Homo sapiens: one gene and its partners. Changing the gene in region 7 together with the main gene of any one other region gives a genetic interaction. Each region holds a gene or a part of one and is shown on either strand. Other genes may lie near its edges.

Evidence for each region.
Region 1: changes in COPS4 (region 7) and UBA3 together harm fitness less than expected from each alone (positive genetic interaction), as found in Homo sapiens cells (one large-scale study listed by BioGRID).
Region 2: changes in COPS4 (region 7) and SMC5 together harm fitness more than expected from each alone (negative genetic interaction), as found in Homo sapiens cells (one large-scale study listed by BioGRID).
Region 3: changes in COPS4 (region 7) and DUT together harm fitness more than expected from each alone (negative genetic interaction), as found in Homo sapiens cells (one large-scale study listed by BioGRID).
Region 4: changes in COPS4 (region 7) and BOD1L1 together harm fitness more than expected from each alone (negative genetic interaction), as found in Homo sapiens cells (one large-scale study listed by BioGRID).
Region 5: changes in COPS4 (region 7) and NUDC together harm fitness more than expected from each alone (negative genetic interaction), as found in Homo sapiens cells (one large-scale study listed by BioGRID).
Region 6: changes in COPS4 (region 7) and XRN2 together harm fitness more than expected from each alone (negative genetic interaction), as found in Homo sapiens cells (one large-scale study listed by BioGRID).

What each region holds. Positions count from the first base shown.
Region 1 is NC_000003.12:69,066,492-69,070,713, forward strand, and holds part of UBA3 (NEDD8-activating enzyme E1 catalytic subunit), read right to left. Parts: intron 1,518-4,222; coding exon 1,437-1,517; intron 1-1,436. UniProt on the Homo sapiens protein: Catalytic subunit of the dimeric UBA3-NAE1 E1 enzyme. E1 activates NEDD8 by first adenylating its C-terminal glycine residue with ATP, thereafter linking this residue to the side chain of the catalytic cysteine, yielding a NEDD8-UBA3 thioester and free AMP.
Region 2 is NC_000009.12:70,345,788-70,350,009, reverse strand, and holds part of SMC5 (structural maintenance of chromosomes protein 5), read right to left. Parts: intron 3,432-4,222; coding exon of another isoform or gene 3,406-3,431; coding exon 3,361-3,405; intron 2,945-3,360; coding exon 2,849-2,944; intron 2,398-2,848; coding exon 2,293-2,397; exon of another isoform or gene 2,289-2,292; intron 2,092-2,288; coding exon 1,972-2,091; intron 1-1,971. UniProt on the Homo sapiens protein: Core component of the SMC5-SMC6 complex, a complex involved in repair of DNA double-strand breaks by homologous recombination.
Region 3 is NC_000015.10:48,337,734-48,341,955, reverse strand, and holds part of DUT (deoxyuridine 5'-triphosphate nucleotidohydrolase, mitochondrial isoform 1 precursor), read right to left. Parts: intron 668-4,222; coding exon 593-667; intron 442-592; coding exon 371-441; intron 1-370. UniProt on the Homo sapiens protein: Catalyzes the cleavage of 2'-deoxyuridine 5'-triphosphate (dUTP) into 2'-deoxyuridine 5'-monophosphate (dUMP) and inorganic pyrophosphate and through its action efficiently prevents uracil misincorporation into DNA and at the same time provides dUMP, the substrate for de novo thymidylate biosynthesis.
Region 4 is NC_000004.12:13,596,145-13,600,366, forward strand, and holds part of BOD1L1 (biorientation of chromosomes in cell division protein 1-like 1), read right to left. Parts: coding exon 2,802-4,222; intron 1,025-2,801; coding exon 960-1,024; intron 1-959. UniProt on the Homo sapiens protein: Component of the fork protection machinery required to protect stalled/damaged replication forks from uncontrolled DNA2-dependent resection.
Region 5 is NC_000001.11:26,924,319-26,928,540, reverse strand, and holds part of NUDC (nuclear migration protein nudC), read right to left. Parts: intron 1-4,222. UniProt on the Homo sapiens protein: Plays a role in neurogenesis and neuronal migration. Necessary for correct formation of mitotic spindles and chromosome separation during mitosis. Necessary for cytokinesis and cell proliferation.
Region 6 is NC_000020.11:21,383,105-21,387,323, reverse strand, and holds part of XRN2 (5'-3' exoribonuclease 2), read right to left. Parts: intron 457-4,219; coding exon 318-456; intron 1-317. UniProt on the Homo sapiens protein: Possesses 5'->3' exoribonuclease activity. May promote the termination of transcription by RNA polymerase II.
Region 7 is NC_000004.12:83,044,884-83,049,105, reverse strand, and holds part of COPS4 (COP9 signalosome complex subunit 4), read right to left. Parts: intron 3,481-4,222; coding exon 3,401-3,480; intron 1-3,400. UniProt on the Homo sapiens protein: Component of the COP9 signalosome complex (CSN), a complex involved in various cellular and developmental processes.

The DNA of each region.
Region 1 (4,222 bases), on a different chromosome or scaffold from region 7:
GGGGTGCAGTAGCGCAATTTCAGCTCACTGCAACCTCAGCCTCCTAGGGTCAAGCGATTCTCCCACCTCAGCCTCCTGAGTAGCTGGGAGCCACTGTGCCCGGCTAATTTTTGTATTCTTAGTAGAGACGGGGTTTCACCATGTTGGCCAGGCTGGTCTCGAACTCCTGACCTCAAGTGATCCACCCACCTCGGCCTCCCAAAGTGCTGGGATTACAGGCATGAGCCACCACGCCTGGCTCATTTTATATTTTATATTTACACCTATAATCCATTTTGAGTTAATTTTGTATGTTTAGGTCAAAATTCATCTTTTAACTATGGATATGAAATTGCTCCAGTACGATTTGTTGAAGACTATGCTTCTTCCATTGGAACTGTTTTGCACCTTTATCAAAAACAAATTGGCCATACTTATATGGGGCTATTTCTGGCTTCCCTATTCTGTTCTAGTCATCTATATATCCCTCTGGTAACGCCACTGAGTCTGGATTACTATAGCTATATAAGTCTAGAATTTGGATAGTGATTCCTCCCACTTTCTTTTTCAGATTTGTAGTAGGTATTCCTTTGCTTTTCTATATAAAATTTTAGAAGATCGTCTATATCGACAATTTTGCTGGGATTTTAATAGAAACTATGGTATATATGTATACAAATTTAGGGAGAAATGACATCTTTACTATATTTAATCTTCCAATCTTTGAAGATGGACTATCTCTCCATTTATTTAGATTTTCTTTGGTTTCTTTCATCAGCATTTTGTAGTTTTTCACTATATAAATCTCTTACTTATCTTGTAGTTTACATCTAAGTATTTATTTTTCTTTCTAAGCAGTTGTAAATGGCATTGTATTTTACATTAACTTTCACAAGTTCACCGGTATGTTGATTTTGTATTCTGTGGGACTTTCTACATAGAAATCACATCTTCTGACTTTCTATAAAATGCCAAAAGTTCTCCAGATCTAAATTCAAACTACAGTGTAAATACTCCTTTTTAAAAACATATTTCTTGTAAAAATAAATTTACTGTGATGTACCTTCCATTTGGCTAATACTATATTGACTGTCTACTCTGTCTGCTACTATAAAGAAACAAAGATTAATTGGATCCAGCCTAGGAATTTACACTCTAGTAAAGGAGATATGTAATTGATACTGAAATTAAGGGCAATAATGCAAAATAAAGTAGATGATGAAACAGGCTTTATAAACTTAAGTTAAAAATCAGGGCCCAAAAAATATTTATATAACCATACAGAAAAGACTGGAAGAATAGATAGCAAAATGTTACCAGCAGTTATCTCAGTAATAAAGTTACTACTGCTGACTTTTTTTCCCTCTTGCTTATCTGTATTCTCTGTTAAATATCTCTTATAATAAAGGAAAAAAGCTTTTAAAAATTAAGTAATTTTCTTTTTGTCAAAAGGATACGGAACTACATTGCAATTAGGAACTCTGTCATTTAGAAATTCTGCAGCAACTTCAGCCTTAGGTCTTCCAATATCTTTAGGCCTACAGGAAAAATATTTAAATTATAATTCATATTATAAATCTATATGATCTACATAACTTATTTTCAAACATAAAAGTAAATTCACAGTAAGTTTACTTATAGGAAATTTAGAAGGAATATTTTTGCCTAAGTATTTTGATTTCAGTAATAACTTTTGGTAAACGGTCATTTAACCTTAAATGTCAACCCTTGCTAATGGTCCAAATTAACATAAGTCTAATTAAGTATTGCTTTAATTAAGAGAAAATCTGAACAGTGTTCTTCCTCCCAGATAAAGCATAATAATGCTATGATTCCTGGCCACTTTCCACTGTAAAAAATTATCCCACTCTTAGAGCTCAGAACCTTATGGTGTTACTCCACAGGTCTTGGCTGAAATATACACAATAAGATTCATCCTTGGGATGCAAGAACCTTCATTTAACCCCTTCTTCCTGTGTGTGCTGATTAAGCAGCAAATTTTGTGTCCCCTAAGAAGCTGCATGAAAAAGAAAAAAAAAGAAAAAAAAAATTTCACTGGACCGTATATAAAATGGAAAAAAAAAAAAAAAAGAGGCTGTAACCACGTTTTTTTCTTTTTTCTTTTTGAGACGGAGTCTCACTCACTCTGTCACCCAGGCTGGAGTGCAGTGGTGCGATCTCGGCTCACTGCAACCTCCGCCTCCCAGGTTCAAGCAATTCTCATGCCTCAGTCTCTAGGGAGGTGAGATTACAGGTGCCTGCCACCACAACCAGCTAGTTTTTGTATTTTTAGTTTTGCCATGTTGGTCAGGCTGGTCTCGAACTCCTGACCTCAGGTGATCTGCCCGCCTCAGCCTCCCAAAATGCTGGGATTACAGGCATGAGCCACCATGCCCGGCACCAAGTTTTTAAAGAAAGAATAATACCAAAAGTGTCAGCTAAAATTGCAAATGTTACTATTACATCACAGAAGCTGAATATATAAGGCCTCAAAAGGTCACTCTTAAAACAATAACCACACATATAGATAGGAAAGGATATGAATTTCCTCCTCTAAGTTCTATACAAATGGTATTTTCTTTCCTAATATTTCCATATTCTCCTCAGAGAAATCACTCCATGTATATAATAAGAACATTATTACTTTTTTCGTAACATATTTGCTACATACACGTCTATCATACCCACTAGACTATTATTTGGATGAAAGTGACCATGTTCTTACTCTCTTCATATTCCTTCCTACCTAGCACACAGTAAATACTTTTAAAATAAATGAAAATAATAAATCGTGTGCTTATTAGAAAAAAATCTGAAATTTCAAAGAAAAACACTTTAGCATGTCAATTTTTCTTTTCTTTTTTTTTGTTTGTTTGAGACAGAGTCTCGCTCTGTCACCCACGCTGGAGTGCAGTGGCACAATCTCGGCTCACTATAACCTCTGCCTCCCAGATTCAAACAATTCTCCTGTCTCAGCCTCCAGAGTGCTGGGACTACGGGCATGAGTCACTACGCCTGGCTAATTTTTGTATTTTTAGTAGACACAGGGTTTCACCGTGTTGGCCGGGCTGGTCTCGAACTTCTGACCTCAAGTGATCCGCCCACCTTAGCCTCCCAATGTGCTGTGATTACAGGCATGAGCCACCATGCCAGGCCAATTTTTTTTCTCTCCAATAAAGCACTGTTCTTTTTTGATTCAAAACTTTTGGTAAATGTTTTATCTTCACTTTGTACTAACTTACATAAAAAAGGCCCTGTTATAAATCAAAGAACTTAATTTCAGTATTGCATTCAATGGCTCCACACACAGAAAGCTCTTTTGGTTTGTAAAAGGGATAAAGTAGACTTCTAAGATTATTTTAAGTAATATATTCTATGTGCTTTTATGGCACGGCCCAAACAAAAGAACTCCTAGATGGTTTCTGGGAACTGTTTGTTAATTTACCATTCCAGGATGAAACAATCAGATTGCTCCACCTCAATAAAATGGCCTTTCACACACATCATCCTTGCAGGACACTCTGCCCAAATTATTTAACCTTGAACACAAGAACCTACCCTGAGGTTGCTGAGATTAAATGGAATAATATGGATAGTTTAGAAGTACTTGCTACATATCGTTATTACCATCTTCAACCATTTTAGCCACAAATTAAAGGGTATGGCCTGTATCAATAACAAATCAATTCAGTGGTATCTTTTTCAGAGAATTCACAACTCAAAATTTGACAAGCTGGACAGAGCCCACAAACTTTGCTATAGAGAAGGGAAATTTCAAAGGTTAAAAAATAAACAAAAAATAAAGCTTAAAAGTTAAACATTAAGGGTCACACTGCAATTACAACACTTCATTAACTTATTTTAATCCATACTTCAGTCCCATTAAGATCTTCCACAAAGATAATGTAGAGGTTTTATGCCTATCCAAAAACTTAATGTTACCTTTTTTGCTAGCTCAACTTTATCCTATATACCCAGAACAATTTGAGCACTGTCAGTAACAGATGCAAACTTCCTAAATAGAGAGAGAAAAAAAAAGTCCTTATCTCTGTGTATCTTTGACTAACAAATATACACTTTTACCTAAACTACTCAAACCCCTCAATATTACATACTAAATTCATGAATGAACATTTCTTCATGTCTGGATACATGGTCTACTTCAGTTTTTGTTTTTTGGGTTGTTTTGTTTTTGTTTTTGAGACAGGGTCTCGCTCTGTTGCCCAGGCTGGAGTACAGTGGC
Region 2 (4,222 bases), on a different chromosome or scaffold from region 7:
ATTTAGTGACACTAGTTTAAATATGTAACAATAAATATATATGTATTTTTAAAAATAATAAATATTAAGCAAACAGTTACTATCTAAAAGCTTTAAGGGTTTTCAAAGAACTATTTAGATAAGGAAATTATTCAGATTAAATTAACATTTTCCTCCTCTATACCATTCTATTCAAGTTTAGTAGGCTTCCCCAAGAGTTTTTAGAAATTACTGAGCGAGGAACTCTGTCCTCAAAAAGCACTATCTATTCTAGTTCCAAAATGCTAGGTTCTTAAACTGTAGGTGAAAGCAATTAGAACATAATGGAGTGTCATGCTCTCTTGTGCTAGAGAAGTGGTTGTGTATGGTAACTGCAGAGGGCCAAGAATCCCCCTAACTTCTTCAGTCGGTTAAGAAGGAAAAAAACAAGGTAGGAATTACACATATACTTTGAAAACTTAAGTCATACATACACACAATACTCAGCAAAAAGCAAGCCTGGCACGTAATAGGTGCTCAATAAATATTTGTTGTAATGAGTACATTAGTGTTTTATAAATGTTGCCAAAACTGAGGATGCTCTAAGGTTTACTATTCTTATTGATGGCACTTCTATGTCAGGTTCAGATTTACCTTAAAAATGAGATACATAACTTACTAATTAGGCCGGGTGTGGTGGCTCATGCCTGTAATCCCAGCAATTTGGGAGGCCGAGGGGGGTGGATCACTTCAGGTCAGGAGTTTGAGACCAGCCTGGCCAACATGGGGAAATCCCATCTCTACTAAAAATACAAAAATTAGCCGGGCATGGTGGCAGGCATCTGTAATCCCAGCTACTTGGGAGTCTGAAGCCGAAGAATAGCTTGAACTCAGGAGGTGGAGGTTGCAGTGAGCCAAGATTGCGCCACTGCGCTCCAGCCTGGGTGAGAGTGAGACTTTGTCTCAAAAAACCAAAACGAAAAACATGAAACTTACTAATTAAAGGTTATCTATTAATTGAATAGAGCTTTAAGGTCTAAGATAGTACTGAGCAAGAGAAAGATATAATACAACCCACATATGTAATTTTCAATTTTCTAGTAGTTACTTTTTTTTTGAGACAGAGTCTCTGTCCCACTCTGTTGCCCGGGCTGGTCTCAAACTCCTGAATTCAAGTGATCCTCCTGCCTTGGCCTCCCAAAGTGGGATTAGGCATAAGCCACAGCACCTGGCCTTTGCCTGTCTTAAAGAAAAATTAATTTTAGCCCAAATTGCAATGCATAAACTTACAGCACAAGAAATTAGTAGCAAATTTCCCACTATTTCCATTCTTATAAATTCTTAAATTCTTTTTTTTTTTTGAGACAAGGTCTGGTTTTGTTGCCCAGGCTGGAGTGCAGTGGCACCATTTTGGCTCACTGGAACCTCCACCTTCCAGGCTCAAGTCATCCTTGCACCTCAGCCTCCAGAGTAGCTGGGACCACAGGTACATACCACCGCACCCAGCTAATTTTTGTATTTTTACAGAGATGCGATTTTGCCATGTTGCCCAGGCTGGTCTCAAACCCGTGAGCTCAAGCTATCTGCCTGCCTCAGCCTCACAAAGTGCTGAGATTACAGGCGTGAGCCACCACACCTGACCATGAATTCTTAAATTCTTTATTAAAAAAAAAAAGACACTGATATACACTATATTTCAAACTAATCTGTTTGAGTCTTCTAACTCCAGCTGTGGTAGCTTTATAACGTATTTATTCAATACAACTGAATAACCATTACTCAGATGTATAAAAAGAGTTACAAGGTATTAGTCACTAATTCCAAACATAACCCCCCCCAAAAAAAGTGACCCTAATGGAATCCCACAGGTGGTTTTCTCCTTTCTTTCAACATTTTGGTAAACAAAACTTTTCACAGATATAACTCAAAAGTAAATAAATAATTTATATGTACTTTAAGCATATAATTAAAATTATTTGCCAGAAATATTATTTATTTCAAATGCAATTTTACCTCATTTTCTGTATGGAGATCAACTTCACCAGCACACTGCATGGAACTAAAAAAATTGCTGAATTTTTCATTAATTTTTTCTACCAGCTCTTTTAAAGGATTAAGCCACCTTTCTTTTACCTACAAATAAAGGCAATATAAAAACACAATTTAAAAGCAGTATTACTATATTCTGACACACAATTTTATGTAAATTTTATATCAGTATCAGTCTGGGCATAACACACTTCTCTTAGAAGCATGTCATCTCATTTTCCATTATTCTACATTCCCATTTCATTAATAATCACATGATAAAAAGATTAAAAACTAAAAAATTACCTGTGAAATGTTTTCCCTGTATTGATCTAGTTCAACTTTCTTTCCCTTTAGTTCCTCAGTTAACTGTTCTATTTCTTCTTCTCTTTTTGTATATTCCTGAACAATCTGGCAGGGGAAAAAAAAACTTCTTTAAGATAAATCTACCAAAGGATAAAACTATATACAATTTTGCATTGATTAAAACATTAAATGAAAATGCCAATTGTGCTGCATTGTTTGTATGCAAATAATATATGCTCTTATTACATACTGAAAGTGACATTTTTTATCCTTGAAAAAATAGACATTGCAGTATTTCAGGTTAGCCCAACTATTCTTTTTATAAAGAAAAGGCACAGAACATTGTGTTCCTTAGGAAGAATCTATTTAAAATTCTAATAGATTCAGAATCTGGCATTTAAAGTACATTGTTCCTGCTGTCTAGCTTATTATTACCAAGAGCTCTAGTACAGAGTGGGAGGCAAGTACTGGAGGGAACTCTGTGTGTGTATGTGTGTGTATGGGGAGGGTGGTGGTGGTGGTTGGATGCAGAATGGGAATAGAGAAACAGGCATACTGTAGGATTCAGTCCCGTGAAGCAGGAAGCTCTTGATCTTTCTTCAGTTAATAAAGCATCAATTTCATCCAATGTGTTTGGAAGGTCTTGGAAAACCTAAGAAAAAAATTGCCCGTCATTATAGATACAATGAAAACAGTTCCATTCAAATAGTTAAAAGAAAAATAATCTGCTGAATAAGTTATCTATCTGTTCAACAGCATGCTGGCACACAAGAATACAAAGGAATAATAAACAGGGTCATTTGCCTTCAAAAGCTTGTACTTTAAAGAAAACAAAATGTATGTACTGGATAACACTTTAAGGCAATGTATTGATGTTGAGTATTAAAACAAGCAGTACATATCATATAGGCTAGGAATTTAGAGAAAAGAAGTATCAGTTCATGCTACAGGAGAGTTAAGAGAATTCAAAGGCCTAGAATTCATCTCCGGGCCTTAAAGCAAATGGCTAGGGAGGAGCAAGGCAGAGGGAAAACAGGAGCTTGGGAAAAAAGAATGAGTACTGCATACCATGGGGAGTGAGGAGTTGTGTCCATTTGGAATGGTGGGTACTTGCTGAATTGGTAGAATGGGTCCAGAATATGTGGGGCATTGAAAGAGAGCAAGAAGTTAGAACTTTATACTGCACTTATGAAGAACTAAAAAAGCATCCTGAGAATCTAATTACTTTGACAGTTGAATTTCACCACAGTACTATCTTCTGAGTCCATGCCATGGGGACAAATTAGAACATATACTTTTTTTTTTGAGGGGAGGCAATCAGTACATTGTTTGGCCTAGCACAACCTGCAAAGGCTATATACTACATGGTACAAAATGAATCCTGAAACCCTGAAAAAGATCTTGACATATTAATCTAATATCTTAAACTTATTATTTTAACCTCTTAGAAAGCAGTTCAACCTCTATAGACCTTCAAATATTCCTCTGTTGAATCTCTGACTTACTGAGATGTAAGCTCATGTGTCCAACATTTATTTACTCGATATCCTCACTTGACTCTAATAGGCATCTTAAATTTAAGATGGTGAAACAGAATCTGGATTTCACCCACCTTCCCTATCACTTTAAGCAACCCTGTTTCTCCTTCAATCTTCTCCATTCCAGTAAATGGCATCGTAATTTGTTCAGGTGAAAAATTTAGGGGTTCTCTCTCTCATCCTTCATGTCAAATCCATCAGCAAGTCTTGCTGGCTCTGTCACTAAAAGATACCTAAGACTTGTCAACTTCTCCCTCTCTCTCTTCAGTGCTATCACCCTAATTCATGCCATCATGTATCTCTTACGTGGTCCAAAGAAATGACCTTCTAAATGGTTTCACTGCTTCCATTCTTGTATCCCTACTTTATCCTCCATCTAGAAGAAAAGTTAG
Region 3 (4,222 bases), on a different chromosome or scaffold from region 7:
GCTCCTAAGAAAAATACAGCCAGAATTCTACTCTTGCTATATCATCTTTTCAAAAGGGAGATTACAGAAAGAAAATTAAATTCTAAAAAGCTCCATAAATTAGAATACTGGATAACTTTAAAAAATTCTAATAAAATATTAGAAGTTCACAGTATGTTTAAATAACTTATTATCCAAAGTAATACTACATAATAGCTACATGAAAAACATTTAAAGAAATTCTAAAACTAGTATTTTAAATTTGCTTAAAATAAGTTTAGTCATATATACTATTTAGTTACAAACAGCATATTAAATTCTCAAGATTATATATATTTCTTCACTTAAGATGTTATATTACTTATTCTGTATCTTCCTTTGTAATACTTACTTGAACTTCTTCTATTTCTGGATAAAAAATCCGTTCGCAAATGAGCTGTGCAATTCGATCACCTTTTTTGACTTCAAAGAAAGAATAGTTTATTACTGACGTTACTGACACATTCGCCATATCCTGTCTTATTCAATGAGAATTAAAGGAGTCAATATTAATTTACACATACATGACTCTGAAAATTCACTAAAATTATGTGAATGTATATATTTAACATACCTTCAAACTTTTCTTTGCCAAAATTAAACAGTACAACACCAACATTTCCTCTATAATCTTCATCTATGACACCAGCTAGAGAAAAGAAAAGTAATATTATCTCAATTTTTGCTATTGGAATACTAGAGGTGTAAGATTATCTCAAAATCATTATCATGTAGCTCTGAGATTTGTATTCTTACAATTGAATAAGTGAATCTTGCCCTGGTACTATGTAAAGCCTCAAAACCAAGAAATGACATTACTAAAATACAAATAAAAATTTAGAAAACAGGTCCTAATTTTCCAACCTGTCACTCTTTATCAAATGGCGACCATTTCCTATTTTAAGCTGGCAGTAGCAATGGCCATCTCCAACCTACTGTCTACCCACGGCACACTTGCCAAAAAGACTAGGAGAAAATTACGATTTGGGTTTTAAAGGTTTTTCCTGGTATCAGCTTCCCGCTAATACCCAGATTGAAATACGATTGAGTCATAAATAAAAATGTCAAAAAGCCTAAAGCTCTGCAGTGGAGTAAATCAACGCTGACATTGTTAAGCAGCAGTCTTGCAAATATTAGAATATTCCATTTTTACACTAAAAATGAAGCTGTATTTTTCAGTTCATAATCTTCCTCTCCTTTTAATCTGAACCACCATCCTTTCTTAGAGCATGGTTTCTCAGAAGACTGTAGCACATAGGCTTCATGAGTACAACTTTTTTTGTGTAATTAATACTTGTTTAAGATTATGAACACAGGGGGAGAAGATCTTTGCAGGGGAGACTTGAGCCAGGTCCCTGACATAGCCCAGAGAGTTATACTTACCAGACTTGCTAGCATTTATCTTTGAGCCAATAATTTAAAATATTTCCATAAGCACAAGCACAGATAATACAGGTGCACCGGGCCTTTTCATTTTTTTATATTGATAAATAATTCACAAAGCATACAATTTATCCATTTGAAGTGTTACAATTCCACAGTTCATAGTGTATCAGAGTTGGCCAACTATCGTCACAGTCAATTATAGCACATTTACATTACCCTCCCTCCAAAAATCCCCTACCTTATTAGCAGTCACTCCCCTTCCTCCTCCCACCCCCAATTTCCTGCTATACACGTTAATTCTTTCTCCTCAGTTTGTGAAAGGCTGGATAAGACTCACGTGAATCTAACTGAAGACAGCTCCATGTCACATCTTACTTGTTATTAATACTCTACCCCAAACAAAAGCCCTGATGAAGGAAAAAATATGGAAATAAAAATAATCCTGTGTTCAGCTCAATGGGCAGTAATGCTATTTGCCCATACTCCTCATTATTTGAAAGCTGAGAAAACAGACAAAAAAACCCCAAAGCATACCCACCCCCCATTTTTTAAGAACAAGGGTAATTCCTAAGCATATCCTTTCAATTTTCTCATATAATGGGGGGAAAAAAGCAAACCCTTAGGTCCACCACGGGGAAAAATATTCAGCAAAAACAACATTTTAGATTTTCCGAATGGATTACAACATACGTTTAAATGAACCCCTGTGCTTTATGAATGAATTACTAGGGACAAGTGAATCTGAATTTAAGCACTTCTTAAAAGGTTCCTGATGCAACACTTTTACGAGAAGAGTGAGTATAAAACTGGGCAGAAAAGCAGCAAAGGCAGTTCATCTCCTGTCGGGCCTGAAGGAAACAATCCATTATTGAACTTGACCAATTCCAATACCAAACCCTGCTTTATTTCTCCACCGTCAGTTGACCATTAATTTACACCTTAATATTTATGAAAAAATTTGATATAAAGATGAAACCAGCTGTTTTCCATATTATCTATATGGAAAAAATTTTGACTGCAGGGACAATTTAAATTAGATTTAATGAAGAAATCCCTCAACATAGCATGTTGTTCCATGCTAGAAAAAATGGCCACAGTAGGCTAGAGAACTTCCATGCTGGGAGATTTTGAGGTACAAGCTAATAATTCATCTATCTTGAATGAGTTAGAGAAAGACATGGACTGACTTCTGAACTATTGTTTCTACTTTATTCAAAAATTTTTAAATAACTAAAACAATACAAATACATATAAAGTAAAAGCTTATAATATTCTCTTACCCTCCCTGAGATAGCTAATGTTACAGAAATATATCTTACATACTACTTTATTTTTTTCTTTTTATCCTTTGAGATTAATATATGTAAATGTTAGCCATTCTTTTTAGATACAAGATATGGAAATATGGGTTCTCTCTCTCCTTCTCTTTCTTTTTTTGGCAGGGTCTCACTCTTATAGCCCAGGCAGGAGTATAGTGGTATGATCACAACTCACTATAGCCTCAACCTCAAGTGATTCTCCCACCTCAGCCTCCAGGTACAAAGGCACCACCACACCTGGCTAATTTTTGTATTTCTTGTAGAGAGAAAGTATCCCTATGTTGCTCAAATAAGCCTCAAACTCCTGGGCTCAAGCAATCTGCCTGTCTCAGCCTCCCAAAGTGCTGGGATTACAGGCATGAGCCACAACGCCCAACCTGTACCATTGTTTCTATGTAACTATTCTCTTGCATAATATCAGACACAGGCTGCTTTTACATTTTGCTATAATAAATGAAGCAGCCCTTTAAGTATATCCTTGTATATGAATGCTTTTTATTTTCATCAAATAGGTTGCAAAAAAGGTGTAGCCACTCAAACTTCCATCAGCAATATTTGAGAATGCCCATTTCCAAAATCCTTGCCAATATTTGATGGCAACAATCTCTTACATTCTGGCCAATATGATGAGTACAAAATGGCTATCTCATTGCCTTACTTTTCATTCCCTGATGACTAGTGAGGCTGGATTTTTTTCCTCCCATTTGTTGGACATTTGCATGTCCTTGTCTATATTTTGTGTATGTTTTTTTCTCATTTGTTCTTTTTCATATAAGTTGCAAATATTTGCTTGTTGGCTTTATAGTATCTTCTAACATACAAAAACACTCCCTTTTTGAAAGGCCTCTGCTAACGTATCTGTAAAGCAGTCCTATCAGAACTACTCAAATGATTGGGTGTCTTGAATCCTGCAGATAGGTGATCTTTATGCTTGGGCCACGAAAATGTGAAAAACCTTTAAGTGACTAAAAGAAATTAAGAAGTTTGAAGTCAATTCAAATGTATGGCAGAAAAAAAGGCCCTCAATAGTTTTTTTTTTTGCATGAATGTTGACGGTATAAAAATTTCAGTAGTTCCAAATTCATTTACCACCCAATTGCCATTCGACCTCCAAGAAAAGCCTTCTCTGCCTACAGGATATAAGTATCAGGGATATTTCTCCTCAGAGAAAGCAGAAAGTAACTTGAAGTTATCACTGGAAAAATCATGCATTGGAACTGGCAGAGTGATTAACTGACTTCAGGCAAAAGTTTTACTGTGTCAAGAGTTTGGCATGTCATTTGTTGGAAACCTTTTTTAGTGAAAAACTATCCACACCTACCAGATGTGAATTCTGAACAGAATCCTGAATGCTCAACTTTTCCCTTTGACCCTTATTTAGAGCCTGGGATTTCTAACAACATCTCTCTTCAGAAATAAAAACTGTTGCCAACTATGATAAACTTGTGCCTAAGGGAGATTGTTAAGATTCTCTGCATCCAAGAACACACCACAATGTG
Region 4 (4,222 bases), about 69 Mb from region 7:
ATCCATCAATGGGTATTCTATTGCTTTAAAGGTAAAAACCCCAACTCAGCACACCACACAAGACTCTTCCTGATGGGCTCCCACTCCCTTCCAGGCTCAAGTCTCATCACAGCTCACCGTGAACCACTGCAGCGCCTGAGACACACCACGTGCCCTCCTGTCTCTGAGTCTAGAACACAACATTCTCTTTGCTTGGAAGGCTCTTTTCTTTCTTTTCTGGGAAATTTCCACTCTACTTTCAAAATTCTATTCCAGTGTCCTCCTTGCAAGCCCTCCTGTCTACCTGCCTATTGCTACTATTGGGCAAGTTGTGTTTCCTCTGTAGTGTTCATAACCCCCATGTTCACTGCTGTTTTGTCACATATACTTGGATGGTGCCTTCAGATCAGGCTAGAAAGAGGATATGGAGACTAAATTGTGTAAAGCACCAAAGCCATGCTTAAAAAAAAAAAAGCAGATTTTATTCTAAGCATGATGGGAAGCCACCACAAATTTTAAGCAGAGCAATGACAGGGCCTAAGTTATGTTTCTAATGACTACCTGCAGGACTGTGTGAATCACACTGGAGGAGGGCTGGAGTGAACTAAGCCTAATGGAGAGGCTACTGAAGTAGTGGCTTAGCCTAGGGTGATGACTGTAGAAACAGAAATAGATGGACTCATGTTATATTTTGGAAATGGAACCTGTAAGAAATGGCGATAGATTAAATGTGGGATGACGGAGAAACTGAGGGTGACTCTTGTGTTTCTGGCTTGAGTAAATGAACTGATGATAGCACTATTTACTAAGATTACTGAGGTTCTTAGCTTTCCCCCCACAGGATATGGCAATAACAACACTAAATATCATAAGTACAATGAGAACAGGACCTATATACCACATAAGTATATATATGTGTATATGTGATGAAACAGTATTTAATCACTTACAGTTCAGCACAGCTGAATTATAAGCCATACCTCCATTTTCAAGTTGGCTTTCAGTTTCAATCCTCCCAAAACATTCAATGGAGACTCTTCATTGCCTAATAAAATTCAAGCCATTTAGTACAGTTTAAGAATTTGCTTGCAAAATACATCTGGGGTCAAAAAGTAATGGAATGTGGTTATCTGACATGCTGTTGCACCTTCCTTTTCTGGTTTATTTTGCTGTCAGTAGAAAATGATCAAAAGGAATATGTTGTATAAAAGAATCTGGATGAAAGGCAGGGATTATTTGCTCATTTTGGGTGAGTGAAATTCTTATTTGCACAGTAAGATAACTGCCCAGAAAGAATGACAAAAGTATTATCTGTGGAGACATCTTCATTTCCAAGTATTTTTCTGCAGTGATCTCCATCAAGTTTGTCCTTAAAAATATTCTGAGTCACTAAGGTCTATTCTCAGTAAAGGTGATTTATTAACAGATTCACTTTACTTGCTTCACACTGAACACAGAAAAATTGAACACAAAGTTAAACTGTGAGGTAGACAAAAAGAAAAAATTTTCTCAGGTGCAGAGATTCAGTTCTACTCTGGTCTTGCCTCTTATATCCTTCTTTAGATTGTGTAGAAGCTTCTGTGGAAACCCTTCTATTTTCACTTCTTCAGGAAAAAAGGAGGAATGAGTAATTGTAGCAATGATTGAGTCATAAAAACTTCTGGAGCATTCAATTTACTCCAGGCTAAATTCAACAGAAACTTGTAAAGTTACTTGTTTCAACCCTTGGAGCATTTCTTAAAGTCTCCTAAGTCTCTATAATGAACAAGACTAAATCTATTAGCCTCAGCTTCCTGAGACTGGGTTAGATGATGGCTAAGGTCTATTTCAGTTAAAAGTCCAGGATGCTACAATTTATATAGCCAGAGTGGAAAAGAATTCCTCTGTCCCTTCAAGTCCAGCCCATGAGGACCCTTTTGTTCCTACAGCATCCTGTGCTTAATCCCAGTCTATGCAATTGTCATGCTTTAAAGTGTCACTGTCCACTTTTCTCCAATCTGGACTGGTATAAAGTATCTGAAGTTGGACGGTATAAGGCATGACTGAGATAATATCTTTGAAAGTTATTAACTATTTCTAAAAGACCAGCACTGTCCAAAATCTGTCAGCAGGGAAAAATGTTTCTTTTCACTTTCAAATATATTCTAAACTAGAAACTCATTTCACCTGAAAAATAAGCTCAGTTAAAAATAACATGCTCCTTTGATTCAAAGGAACTAACAGACTGAACAAACAAATACTGCAAACCTATGATCAGATGAGGGTTGGAATCGTGTTTGCCTTTGTATTATCATCCCGTCTTATTATCCCCATTTTATACAACAAGAAATGGAGGCTCAGAAACTGATTTTTCCTCTAAAAGTCACCCGAGGACCATGAATGCTATTTAAATTTTCTGACCCTATTTCCTCGTTTGTAAAATGAGGGTGGTAAAAAAAAAATGTATTGCTTTCATTGGGTTGTGGTAGGGTATTCTTCTTTTTGATTGACAAAAAACCTGTAGGTCAAAAAGGTTTAGTAAGTTGCAGCAGTCATGTAAATAACATGTGGACTTCCCATGCCTCAGCCTCCTGCTTTTTCTCTCCCCACACATGAGAAATGGGCCAAAGGCTTTAAACTTTTAAACACAAGTAGCTTTTAGAGAAGTTTGACCTTCAAGTTTGATGAGAGTTATTTTGCAACATTATGATATGAGAAAAAAATTTATAGATATTTTATCTTTCTGGAACCAAAACCATCTTTTGGAAGACTGTCCTAAATGCACTCTGTTGTACAATCATCCTTGTAAATATTAAAATTTGCAATTAGGTACAGATTCTCACCTATGTCACACACATTTTCTTCAGAAGACACAGTAACCATTATGTCTCCTTCCTCAGGGAATGATTTCCTTGTGCTGTTATCATCTCCTGTTTTCTCAGCAGATGCTTGATCAGTCCATTTGCCACTATAATCATTCTTTATAGTCAAGTCCTGCTCACATTTAGGAGCCAACAGAGCTACACTGTAAGTAGCTGGAGGGATCATTGTGTGGGAAGGAGCAATTTTTGATTCTTGGCCAGTAATACATTTGGTGGTACTGGTTTTCAAGTTGTCTTCAGACCCCTGCTGCTCAGCAGGAAGAAAGGAATGCTCAGCCACGGTCCCTTGAACAGGTGGCATGTCATCAGCTTTTATAGCACCGGTGTTTACTGCTGCCAAATAGCGAATGCTGACAGAGGGATCCTTAGCCGTCTGCCCAGACGTCTGTTCTGGTCCTCTCAGGTGGGCAGGTGAGTTAGCATTCCCCTCTAAGCCCCTTCCTGCTGAATAACTTGCTGTGCTACTGCCCCCTGCTGTCCCTGTCTCTGGGCTCTTATCTTCTTTCTGAAGGGAGTTCAACAATACATTCTTCTCTTCTGCATTTATGAGGTGTAAAGTGCTCTCTTTCTGTCCTCTTCCTGCAAATGGTCCTATTTCGGGGCACTCCTTGCCATGCTTCTCTTCTTTTTCCGCACAAACAGCACTTGGATGGCCTTGCCCTGCAGAGGGCTTGTGGACTGATGGCCCGTTGTGCCCCTCCTCGGTGCTCACTGCCAACACGGGACCCGGTTCTTTGCCTCCCCTGACTGGCCCAGGACACCGACAGTTATTCTCAGCAATTAGGCTGGGCATGGGGACCTTGTGCTTGCTCACTTCTGTGGCTGACAGGTCACCGTTCCCTTCTGGGTTGTCTGCAGTCAGCTGATTCTCTTCATGTCTGTCAATGCTGGCGGAAATTGGCATACATTCTGCTGTGCTGGTGGAGATGATGGCAGCATCGCTCAAGTCTTCTACTCTTGTGATGGTGAGCCGATCTTCATCCTGGAGGACAGCACCAATCATGACTGCTTCACACCCTTCAGAGGTGCTTGTGGAAATCATGGCGGTGTCACCCATCTCTTCCGCTGGTGTGACTGAGGGGTCGCCTTCCTCTTGAGGGACAGCACTGGACACTGGGCCCTCACAGTCTTCCACCGAGCTCGTAGAGATGATGCCACTCCCGTCTTTTTCTTCCATGACTGTGCCAGCTCGCTCATTTTCACTTTCAACAACTACACCGGAAACAGAAGCCTCACATTCTTCTGCTATGCTAGTGGAAATGAGAGCACATTCATCCTTCTCCTCCTTGCTGGTTGAGGCAAGAGGACTTTCAGCTTCTGGGGGCGCACTGGGCATAGGCCCCTCAAAGTCGGCGGTGCTTATCAAGACTGGACCTGTAGCC
Region 5 (4,222 bases), on a different chromosome or scaffold from region 7:
TTATGAGTTCCTAAATATGAAATTCACAATTAAATGTTATTTTTCCTCTGCACTGCATATTTTCTCATAATCTGGTGTTCTTCAATTGACTTAAATGTCTTTTACCATTTACAAAGTTTCAGCATCTGAAAAGGCAAACAGCTATCTCTTCTTTTATAGCTTCCAGTTTTCTAATGCTGAAAAGTCTCCCCCACATAAGACTATAGTTTCCTAGTTTTCCTTACAGGATTTTTATTATTGGTATTTTTATAGAGTATGACAGATGGCAAATTTTGTTTTTTTAACCAAAAAAAATTCATGTAGCAGCATGACTTATTAAATCATGCTTTGCCTACTGAACTGAATTACCACAATAGACACATTAAATCCTCATAAATGCCAGACTTTATTTCAGGATTCTCTATTCTGCTTCACTGGTCCATTTTTCTCTTCTTCTATCAATACCATATTGATTAGATCACTATGGCTGTATTCAAGTCTACAATTCCTAGCCCCAAAAGCTATAAAAACTAAAAGTGCTTTTGTATTTTTTTGTAAGTTCGTGGCATGAGGTATTTACAGTCTTCATTTCTTCTACTTGGTATGTATATTGATATATATATTTCTGCAGAAATATTAATGTGTTTTGTTGCAGGATGCAGCTCCTGGCCTGCGATTAGATTATTGTATGTAATGCACATTATATGCACTGTATTGCCTTTCTGAAATCCAAATAATTTTAAATACCAAAACACATGTGGCCCCAAGGGATTCTGAAGTGGATTGTGGTCTTTGCCTTTTTTTAAATCCTCGTAACATCCTTGTAAGGTAAGGACTGCTCCCTCTTACAGTTAAGAAAAATTAGGGGCTGGGCGCAGTGGCTCATGACTGTAATCCCAGCACTTTGAGGGGCCGAAGCGGGCAGATCACGAGCTCAGGAGTTCGAGACCAACCTGACCAACATGGTGAAACCCCGGCTCTACTAAAAATACGAAAATTAGCCAGGCATAGGGGCGGGCGCCTGTAATCCCAGCTACTCAGGAGGCTGAGGCAGAAGAATCGCTTGAACCTGGGAGGCGGGGATTGCAGTGAGCTGAGATCGCTCCACTGCTCTCCTGCCTAGGTCATAGAGCAAGACTCCGTCTCAAAAAAAAAAAAAAAAGAAAAAGAAAAATTAGGTAGTCCCAGCACTTTGGGAGGCTAAGGCGGCTGGATCACGCCACTGTGCTCCAGCTGGGACAACAGAGCAAGACCCTGACACACACACACACACACACACACACACACACACACACACGGTTCATCTCTCTCCCTTCTTACAGCCACTGTGCTCCAGCTGGGACAACAGAGCAAGACCCTGACACACACACACACGGTTCATCTCTCTCCCTTCTTACAGCTATTCATCCTTCATATCTGAAGCGTCACTTCCTCACAAAGTCTTCTCTGAGCCCCCAACCTAGGTTAGTTTTATGTTCCCAGGGATTCTGCCCCAACACCCACTACTTTTTCACTGCTTGTTTTTTTTATTTTGGCTACACTGTGAGATCCATGAAAACAAAGAACAAATCTGTATTCACCTCTGCAATCCCAAAAGGTTTGATATAGCACCTAACATAATCCAAAGTGTTAAGTGTTCAATAAACATTCATTGAAAAAAGTAGGCCGGGTGCAGTGGCTCACGCCTGTAATCCCAGCACTTTGGGAGGCTGAGGCTGGGGGATCACCTGAGGTCAGGAGTTTGAGAACAGCCTAACCAACATGGTGAAACCTGTCTCTACTAAAAATACAAAATTAGCCAGGCATGGTGGTGCATGCCTGTAATCCCACCTACTTAGGAGGCTGAGGCAGGAGAATCACTTACAACCTGGGAGGCAGAAGTTGCAGTGGGCTGAGATCGTGCCATTGCACTCCAGACTGGGCAACAAGCATGAAACTCCGTGTCAAAAAAAAAAAGAAAGAAAAAATAAATGACTAGTCCCAAAAGCTATAAAAACTAAAAGTGCTTTTGTATTTTTTTGTAAGTTTGCGGCATGAGGTTTTACAGGTAGTCTGACCCACAGAAAGGCCAGAGGTGTTAGTGACAATACAGAAAAAATATCTGAGCTAGAAGGGGTCTACTTTCTCCCATTTTACAGATGTAAAGATGGAAAGAACCAGAGCATTGCTGGGAACTCGACTAGGTGACAAAGCTAGACCAAGAACCTGGGACTCCTACTCTTAGGTAATGTGTCTATGACAGAGTGGCCTCAGACATTCAGGACACATTAAAGAGTTTACCAACTTGTTAGAATCCTGAAGCCACAGAAAACGGTTTGCAAAGAACGTCTACGTCTCCTTCTTATTATGTCTCTTGTTTATGTCTATTATAAAGATAATGGCGCCGGGCGTGGTGGCTCACGCCTGTAATCTCAGCTACTCAGGAGGCTGAGCACAATAATTGCTTGAACCCAAGAGGCAGACATTGCAGTGAGCCAAGATCGCACCATTGCACTCCAGCCTGGATAAAAAGAGCGGGACTCCGTCTCAAAAAAAAAAAAGGCTGGGCATGGTGGCTCACACCTGTAATCCCAGCACTTCGGGAGGCCAAGGCAGGCAGATCACCTGAGGTTGGGAGTTCAAGACCAGCCTGGCCAACATGGTGAAACCCCATCTCTACTAAAAATACAAATATTATCCAGGCGTGGTGGTGCATGCCTGTAATCCCAGCTACTCAGGAGGCTGAGGCAGGAGAATTGCTTGAACTCGCAAGGCGGAGGTTGTGGTGAGCTGAGATCGTGCCATTGCACTGCAGCCTGGGCAACAGAGTGAAACTCTGTCTCAAAAAAAAAAAAAAAAAAAAATTCCTCATGATATAACAATTTTCAAAAGTATAATTACAACTTTAAGGAATCAGAAAGAAGTTCAAGGTCTCAGAATCAATACTACAAAACAGAAATCCTTAAACTCTGAGTCACAGCATCTGGGAAGACATGCCTCTGAGTATTTCTAAATTTATTTCTTTTTTTTTTTTTTTTTTTTTTGAGACGGAGTCTCACTGTTGCCCAGGCTGGAGTGCAATGGCGCGATCTCGGCTCACTGCAAGCTCCGCCCCCCGGGGTTCACGCCATTCTCCTGCCTCAGCCTCCAGAGTAGCCGGGACTACAGGCGCCCGCCACCTCGCCTGGCTAATTTTTTGTGTTTTTAGTAGAGACGGGGTTTCACCGTGTTAGCCAGCATGGTCTCGATCTCCTGACCTCGTGATCCGCCAGCCTCGGCCTCCCAAAGTGCTGGGATTACAGGCGTGAGCCACCGCGCCCGGCCTTCTAAATTTATTTCTAAGCATCAGTTTCTAATATTTGCCCAGTCTCATCTCCTAGGTTATTAGTTAAAACCTCCTCAGGCCGGGTGCAGTGGCTCACACCTGTACTCCCAGCGCTTTAGGAGGCCGAGGTGGGTGGATCACTTGAGGTCAGGGGTTCGAGACCAGCCTGGCCAACATGGTGAAACCTCATCTCTACTAAAAATACAAAAATTAGCCAGGCATGGTGGCGCCTGCCTGTAATCCCAGCTACTTGGGAGGCTGAGGCACAAGAATCACTTAAACCCAGGAGGCGGAGGTTGCAGTGAGCCTAGATTATGCCACTGCACTCCAGCCTGCGCAACAGAATGAGACTCCATTTCAAAAAATAAAATAAAATAAAATAAATAAAAGTAAAAATAAAACCTCCTGGCCAGGCACAGTGGCTTATACCTGTAATCCCAGCACTTTGGGAGGCCGAGGCGGGTGGATCATGAGGTCAGGAGTTCGAGACCAGCCTGGCCAATATGATGAAACCTCGTCTCTATCAAAATACAAAAATTAGCCAGGTGTGGTGGCGGGCGCCTGTAATCCCACTTACTCAGGAGGCTGAGGCAGGAGAATTGCTTGAACCCAGGAGGCGAAAGTTGCAGTGAGCCGACATTGCGCCACTGCGCTTCAGCTTGGGTGACAAAGCAAGACTCTGTCTCAGAAAATAAATAAATAAATAAAACCTCCTCATTGGAAAAGGAACTGAGAGGCACTGTGTCGGGGCAGAGGACAGGTTTACAACAGACTGGTTTCAACCCTGGTTCTCCCACAGCTCAGCTCAAGACTTTGGATAAGGTGCAAAATTCTCTTGAGCCAATTTCCTCAATGGGGATAGTTAACACCTGCCCCTCTTGTAGAACTGCAAAAGTCATGGGAAATAAGGTAGATAGAGGGCTGAGCAAGGAGTGGAGC
Region 6 (4,219 bases), on a different chromosome or scaffold from region 7:
ATTGAAGAACAATATCCTTAAAGGAAAAACAATGTGTTTTGGTGACTGACTATACTTGGACTAATTATCACTGACTGCTATGATTTAAAGGGCTTTTGGGTTAGAAATTCTTTGGCATCTTCAAGGTATATAACCTATTTAGTGAAGCAGGTACTCAACCCATATACATTTTTAATGACAGACCCAAGTTCAGCCAAGCTACTCTAAGCTACTCTATCAGTGTCTTCTCCAGAAATGTTGGTAAGAAAATACGGAGTCCTGTGAGGCTTGTTGAAATATAAAGTGAGCAGTATACTTTTCATCCCACAACCATTTACCTGTCTCCCTCCACGATCATCTCGTCTGGGTGGATACCCACCAGGCCCAGCTAGCATCTGGTACTGGTTTGGCTGGAAGGCTGCATTCTGGGTTTGCAGCATCCGGTTCCATGGGAGCAGAGGTTCAGCCCCAACGCCTCTGTAGGAAAGTACCAGTTTTACATCAGAAGCCACACCTATTATACAGCACAAAGCCTAAAATCGGCAGGTATCATCTCCAAATTTTAGTACAATCCAATTTACCTGGATTTATCATATGGGATACAGAGTATCAGAATGGCCTTTGTGTCCCTTATATCCAGTATAATCTAACATGTTTCATGAAGCATCAGCATTTATTACAATGGATGTTTAAACTCAACTGAGAAGTTCTGACTTTTAAAAGTTATTTTGTTCATTTTCAATTGGGAAATTTCCTTTTTAGTCACTTAAAGATGTAGACCCAAGATCACCAAGATGGCTACATTTAAGATGCTATCCAAAGAGTAAACATGTACAAGACAGGAGAATGAGGCTTTATTTTCAAAAATGTCCAGACTCGTTCTTGGATCCATTCTTTCTACTTAATTGCAGGTTGCAAATGAATTCTTACTGCTGAGTATTTTGAATCCAGGGTAGGAGACTTGGCTGTTTTTTCCCATCCATTATTCTGTTCAATATGTCAGAAGGTCTGATTGGGAGGAAACCTTTTCAAGTTCTATTGATGCAGCTTTCAATTGACCACGGTGACCTAGCAACATGAGCACTAATTGGCATGGGCTGACTGGCATTTGGTGTACAGTTTACATGGGAACACAGATTCAACGGCTATTATAACCCAGTTTGCTGTCGCAGATTACTAGTCGAAAGAAATGTTTTAATTGTCTTCAAGTGACTATTTTAACTTTGCAGATGCAAAGCAACAGGTATAATGTACTAAATCATAACTTAATTAAAAACTGTCACATAAACAATGTAGCAAGGATATACCTTCTAAAGGCAATCACCATTTAAGACTTTACTTTCTCCTTAAGGCACTTTCCATAACTTCTATTTTATGGAAGGCACTACAAAGAATAAACAGAGGCAAATGCTCCAGTATACTTGAACATCAGAAGCTTTGGGGCCACTGACCATGTTAGGAGGAATTCAATAAAACTTTAAATTCACTGAAGTGCTGACTAGCTGGTAATCAGTTATAACCATATCAGCATAAGAATTTCACTTCCGAGGTCTTAGGGGAAAAAAGCCCGGCGCTGGGCTCATTGGGTAAAGCATTCTTCTCACAGCTATTCAAGCCTGAATCCATCCTCTCTACCCCCACTCTCCTCCCTTCACTTGGAGCTTGCCTTCTTTTTATTAAAACAACACCAGAGATAATTATTTTTGTGTGATGATTCGAAGAAATGAACTGCTCTCTAAAGAACTCTAGAAAGGCTAAAGTTTTTCTTTACAGTTGGTAGCTGAAACCAGAGCTCTAATAACAATGTGTTATAAGTAATTCAGAATACAATTAAAAATAAGTTTTTATCTCAGAAAGAAAATGCATATGGCTAGGGCTTTTAATTATTTTTCAGGACAATTACTAGCACAAATATATTTTAGCAAGAATGCCTCCATCTGTTTTAGCAAGAAGAGCTCCGTGTGCAGAGATAGGAATGGTCTCTTCCAGTCTCTGCAGGAGTGAAGGGCTAAACTAAGGTTTGTGCTGTAACCAAAGTCTCATCAAAACTGGGCCAATTAATGCAAAACCCACGGGCTAAAAACACAATTCACATCTTAACTGTGATCAGTTTTTCTTTTGAGTCTTACAATAATAAAATTCAATTGAGTTTTAGGAAGATCTGCTGGCATAAATAATATACATTATAAATGCAATTCAAAACTATTTTATGTTCCAAAAACAGGTTAAGAACAAAGCCACAGTTTAAAAACGCAAAGTTCTTTTTGTTTGAATTGATTACTTATAATGTTTTTGACAAATATAATTTTTATGAAAAAAATCATCAATAATTAAAATTAAACAGAAGAACAAAGCAAGGATGTCATGTACTACCTTCTTCTGACTTTTATGACAGAAAGGCCTTTATTTTCAACAAGTTTATCACATGTCTAGACTAATTATATATTTTGCAAATACTTACAAAACTAAAAATTTGCCTAGGAAATTATGTTTTAAAATCTGGGATAGAAGCACAGAAACTGACATATCCTAAATTCTAAAAATTAGCAATTAGGCCAGGCACAGTAACTCAGCCTGTAATCCCGGCACTCCAGGAGGCCGAGGCAGGCAGATCACTTCAGCCCAGGAGTTTGAGACCAGCCTAGGCAACATGGGAAAACCCCGTCTCTACTAAAAATACAAAAATCAGCCAGGCATGGTGGTGTGGGAGCCTGTAGTCCCAGCTACTTGGAAGGCTGAAGCATCAGAATCACTTGAACCTGGATGGCAGAAGCTGCAGTGAGCCAAGATCATGACATTACACTCCAGCCTGGGTGACAGAGTGAGACCTTGTCTCAATCAATAAATCAATAAAAGAAGTTAATAAATAAGGCAACTTATTTGAGCCATTTGGCATCGTAGATAGCAACAATTTTTTTAAGTTTCCAAATTGTTTTGGAAAGTTACTGGAGATGTGAACTACTACCAATTTGAATATTTTAAATGTATGCATATGGTAAAATCGGAGTTTTATTTAAAAGATTTTTCATGATTGAGCTTAACACTCATAGGTAAAAAACTAAATGGCTGCCTTGCAAATGACTGAAAAAGAGGCCTCCATTGACAAGAAGAACCCAAACAATGTGGCAAAACTCAAGTGACAAAGGGAACTCCAATGCTGGGTATCTATTAACTCTAGGCTGTGTCTGTGTTGGGAGGATGTTCCTGTTGTATTTTTAAATCTACTGGATATATGGATTATACATACCATCTTAAAGTAGGAAATTATTCAAGAAATGCAATGTAATAAAAAAAAGACACTCAAAATTCTCTTAATAGGATTCTCAACAAACAGTAGCGTCGTGGAAACATACTGAACTAAGAACTGGTAAAACCTGGTTCTGGAACAAAATGGTATCTTTCTTAAATGTCTGTGATGTAAGACTTTTATGATAGAACTCTATTATGCTCACATTTACCTTTTGCTTTCAGGCATAATTTTAAGTATCTGACTAAAACTAAACCAAAAAACATTCCCACAAAACTTGTCACTAACCTGCTGGGTTCACAAAGTCAGAATAATACTAGTACTTGGCTAGGGTAGAATAAGAACAAAACCTGATGGACAGCAGGGTAAGGGAAGGGACAATGATGATGATCTTAGGAAAACTTTTAATGTGAACAGAGGGGAGGAAAGCTGTTGGGGCCTTAGAAGTGGAAACAGATCCTTTACTTCCTTTGAAGTCCCTACGTCTTTATATTACGCTCAGAGTAAATATTCTGGTAAGTTTTGTTCCAGTGAAAAGTTTCTTGGTAAAGAATGGCACAAAAGAGTGACCTTAGGTAAGCTGCTGAACTTCTCTGTGCCTCACTTTCTTCATTTGCAAAAATGTAAACATAACAGCATCTATTTCAATGCACTGCTAGGAGGAATAAATGAAATCATTCTTATTAAAGGATGTTAACACAGTGTTAACACTTTGTAAGCAGACAAACATTTGCCATTATTATTAGTATGGAAAGTGAGCAATAAGATAGAGAAACCAAGTATATAATTTAGGAAAAATTTACCCCTTACTTACTTAATTTCTGCTTAAAATTTGTGGTACTGAGGAAAATGAAACAGCACATACTGTGTGCTTTCAGAACATATACTAAAATCAAAACATTAATACACACATTGCTAGTCGTATTGCATTTAATGAGACTTGCACTAAGTTGACACTATTAGTAAACATCGAATAACATGATTCCTTTTATC
Region 7 (4,222 bases):
CAACCTTTACTTAAAATTAATACTAACAACAATCTATATTAGTACAGCCTTCAATGCATTATTCAAGGATTTCCATACCCCTATCATTTTATATTACATCATCAGTTTTCCTTATGCTGAAATACTTGATTACACAATGACCACACAAAAACAGTAAAAATAGGCCAGTGCGATGGCTCACGCCTGTAATCTCAGCACTTTGGGAGGCCGAGGCAGGCAGATCACGACGTCAGGAGTTCGAGACCAGCCTGACCAACGTGGTGAAACGCTGTCTCTACTAAAAATACAAAAAAAAAATTAGTCAGGCATGGTGGTGGGCACCTGTAGTCCCAGCTACTCAGGAGGCTAAGGCAAGAGAATCGCTTGAACCTGGGAGGCTGGGGTTGCAGTGAGCCGAGATCACAGCACCGTACTCCAGCCTGGGCAACAGAGCTAGACTCTGTCTCAAAATTAATTAATTCATTAATTAATTAAAAAATCTTAAAAAACAGTAAAAATAACACAACTTTTCTAAGAAACAGAAATAATTGAAAAAAGTTTTAAAAGTTGATAATTTTATCTCATTTTTCTACAAAGTGAAGGCACAAAAACACCTATATTTTTATTTATGTGCTTATATCCTACCTTGTTCCAAAAAGGAGTTAAAAAAGAAAACAGTAAAATAATTTTCATGAAATTTAAATAAAGCAAGTGCTGCCAGTACAGTTATTGCCACTTATACTTTCCCAATAAAAACAATAAATAAGAACTTCAGTGAGCACTAGATGTATTGACATTATTTATAAACATTTACGAGGTATTATTTTATGTGATTAAGCTCTGGAGCCACACTGCTTCTACCACTACTGATTATATGACTTCAGACAAGAAACTTAACTTCTCTATGCTTCTCTGTGCTTCTGTTTCCTCATGTGTAACATCTATTTCATAAGGTTGTTATGAAGCTTAAATGCAATAATATACACAAAGCACTTTAAACAATACCTGGTACATAGCACTCAACAAATGTTACTATTATAACTATCATTTTAAATGCATCATTCTTGTAAACTATTGCTTAGATAAATTATTCAAGTCTTTTTTATTATTATTATTTTTTTTTTTTGAGACTGAGTCTCGCTCTGTCGCCCAGGCTGGAGTGCAGTGGCACCATCTTGGCTCACTGCAAGCTCCACCTCCCGGGTTCATGCCATTCTCCTGCCTCAGCCTCCTGAGTAGCTGGGACTACAGGCACCCGCCACCACGCCCAGCTGATTTTTTTGTATTTTTAGTAGAGATAGGGTTTCACCGTGTTAGCCAAAATGGTCTTGATCTCCTGACCTCGTGATCCGCCCATCTCGGTCTCCCAAAGTGCTGGGACTACAGGCGTAAGCCATGGCCCCGGCCAATTATTCAAGTCTTAAAGCAGCAGTTAATATGAAAATAAGTGATTCAAAAACTGTTCAGTTGATGTAAATGATTTTAACAGTAGACTGCTTTTCCTGGTGGTTTACTGGATTCAAAGCTTATACAAAGATCAAAAAATATATATATATATGTTTTTTAATTGTTTTTTTGAGACAATCTTACTGCTGCCCAGGCTGGAGCGCAGTGATGCAACCTCAGCTCACTTCAGTCTCGACCACCGGGGCTCAAGCAGTCTTCCCACCTCAGCGTCCCAATAGCTGGGACTACAGGCATGCATCACCACGCCAGGCTAATTTTCGTATTTTTTTGTAGAGACGAGATTTCTCCACATTGCCCAGGCTGGTTTTGAACTCCTGAGCTCAAGTGATCCCTTGGCTGGGTGCCATGACTCATACCTGTAATCGCAAAGTGTTGGGATTACAGGCATGAGCCACCGTGCCCAGCCAAGATCAAAGTTATAAAAAGCATTATTCTTCTGCTACTACAGTGCAAAGTTCTTAATAAACCACTCCTAACAGTTTTTTGGAAACCATTGCTAGTTTATCTCACACCGGAGGCCATGATTTTTTAAGGCAGTAACCTTTTAAGTTTTAAGGCAGTAACTTTTTAAGGCAGTATTTTTTTAAGGCAGTTGTAATTAATTAATCACATATTAATTGGAATTCATTATTGGGTAATACAGGATGTGACTGAGAAAACAGTTTCATTACAAGTGTCATTAGGCATTTAAGTTACCATACAAGCTGGTATTACTCAGGGAAATATAAGCAAGTAAGAGCAGTGTATCAGAAAACCTAGTTTCTGATCTGGGCTCTGCCAGCTAAATGTCCTTGAAAAAAAGTTACTCAATCCTGAGACTTGTCTTACAATATATTATACAGGGATACCTGTACCTATACGTTCTAGTCACAGGTTATTAAAAGGAGCCTATGTGACAGGTAATGTGTGTGAGAACACACTGTAAAGCACTATCAGATATCATTAATGATGTGAACTCACTATAAAATTCCATGTGAACTCACTATAAAATTCCTTAGGATAATGGCCTACAGACATATGCATGTTGCTGCACAGGACATGATTGTATTCTTTTTAATGTGTGCGTAGTATTTTATGGTGTATATGTGGCACATATTTCTATCCAATTTATTGATTCACACATAAGTTAAGTCCATGCCTTCCTTATTGTGAATAGCAATATGGCGAATATACAAGTGCATGTGGGGTTTCTTTTTGTGGAATTTTTAATTTTCTTTTGGATATATACTCAGTAATGGAATTGCTGGTTGAATGGTACTTCTGCTTTAAATTCTTTGAATAATCTCCAAACTGCTTTTCACAGTGGCTGAACTAATTTACATTCTCACCAACAGTGTATAAGCATTTCATTTTCTCTGAAGTCTAACCAGAATTTGTTATTTTTTTACTTTTTAATAGTAGCCATTCTGACTAATATTAGATGGCATCCCACATTGATTTGCATTTCTCTGATGATTAGTGATGTTGAACATTAAGAAAACAACCCCATTAAAACATTGACAAGGGACATAAGCAGACACTTCTCAAAGTACAGTACTGTACTACCCTGTAGTACAGTAATGTACTATAGAGTACATTTTAGGTACATTAGATGTACTACAGAGTACATTTTAAAGAGGAAAAGGAGGCACAGAGAGGTTAAATAATTGACCCAAGATCACACAGCTCATAAAATAGCATACCAGGATTTGAATCCAAACTATTCTCTTTACTATTATGCTATATTGTCCCTTATCAGCTATTATAACAATAAACATACAAAACTTTAATTAGGATTGTAATTCTGAAGATAATTCACTGAAAATTAATCAAGTTGTAAACAGTTTAAATTCTAAAATCAATCAATCTCAATGCATATTTAATATTGATAATTTGATACAAAACAAGGCTTGAGAGAACTTTAAAGTCCTAGCTCAGTAATACAAGGCAAGCATGAAATTTCCATTTCACTTACTTGCTTCCACAAAAGCTTTCAAAGCTTCTAGTTGTTCTGCTCCAGATAACTGAATGGCTTTTTCCAGGATCTGACGATACCTACAACAATACCAAATGAAAATAATGTTCTGAGGGTACTATATTTTCTAATGCAAACTTTGATGTGTATTTATTCATTTCTACATACCTTGGTTTCTTTCATAGTACTATAGTTTGTGGTTTTCTTTATAGTATACCACAGATTTTTTTTTAAGTTTCTAGTCTATCACAAGAGATATTAAATCTATAATTATATAAGGTACCACTTCATCTAGTTTTCAGTATAGTATACCAGAATTTTTTAAGTTTTCAAGCTCATCACAAGAAAGAATGAATCTATAATTCTGTTACTGAATCTAAGGTGTCACTTTTTCTTGAAGGTTTTATTTTTGAATTTAAACTACAAAGTCAATTTCCTTTCAAATGCCTTAAAAGATAAGCTATATTTCCTTCAACTGTGCAATACATAGACACACAAAAACATTATTTGAGGTGACCTGAATCTTTTCCTCTTACAGACGTAATGTATGTAGGGTCACCAGCAATAGGATAATGTTGACCAGGCAACGAAACCAAACATTAAAGACTGAATGTCTTAGTCTGTACAAAATAAACTTCGCCAAGCCAAATGCACTGATAGAATACCATTTATGCTGTCAGACAGTACCTATTTATTCTTTATTTGCATTCAGATCTAATAACTATTCTACCTAATATCTGTGACCACACAAGCTCCACGAGGACAGGAATTCTTGTGTTTTGTTCTCTGCTATGTAGACAATTATCTCAATTCTTGGCACAT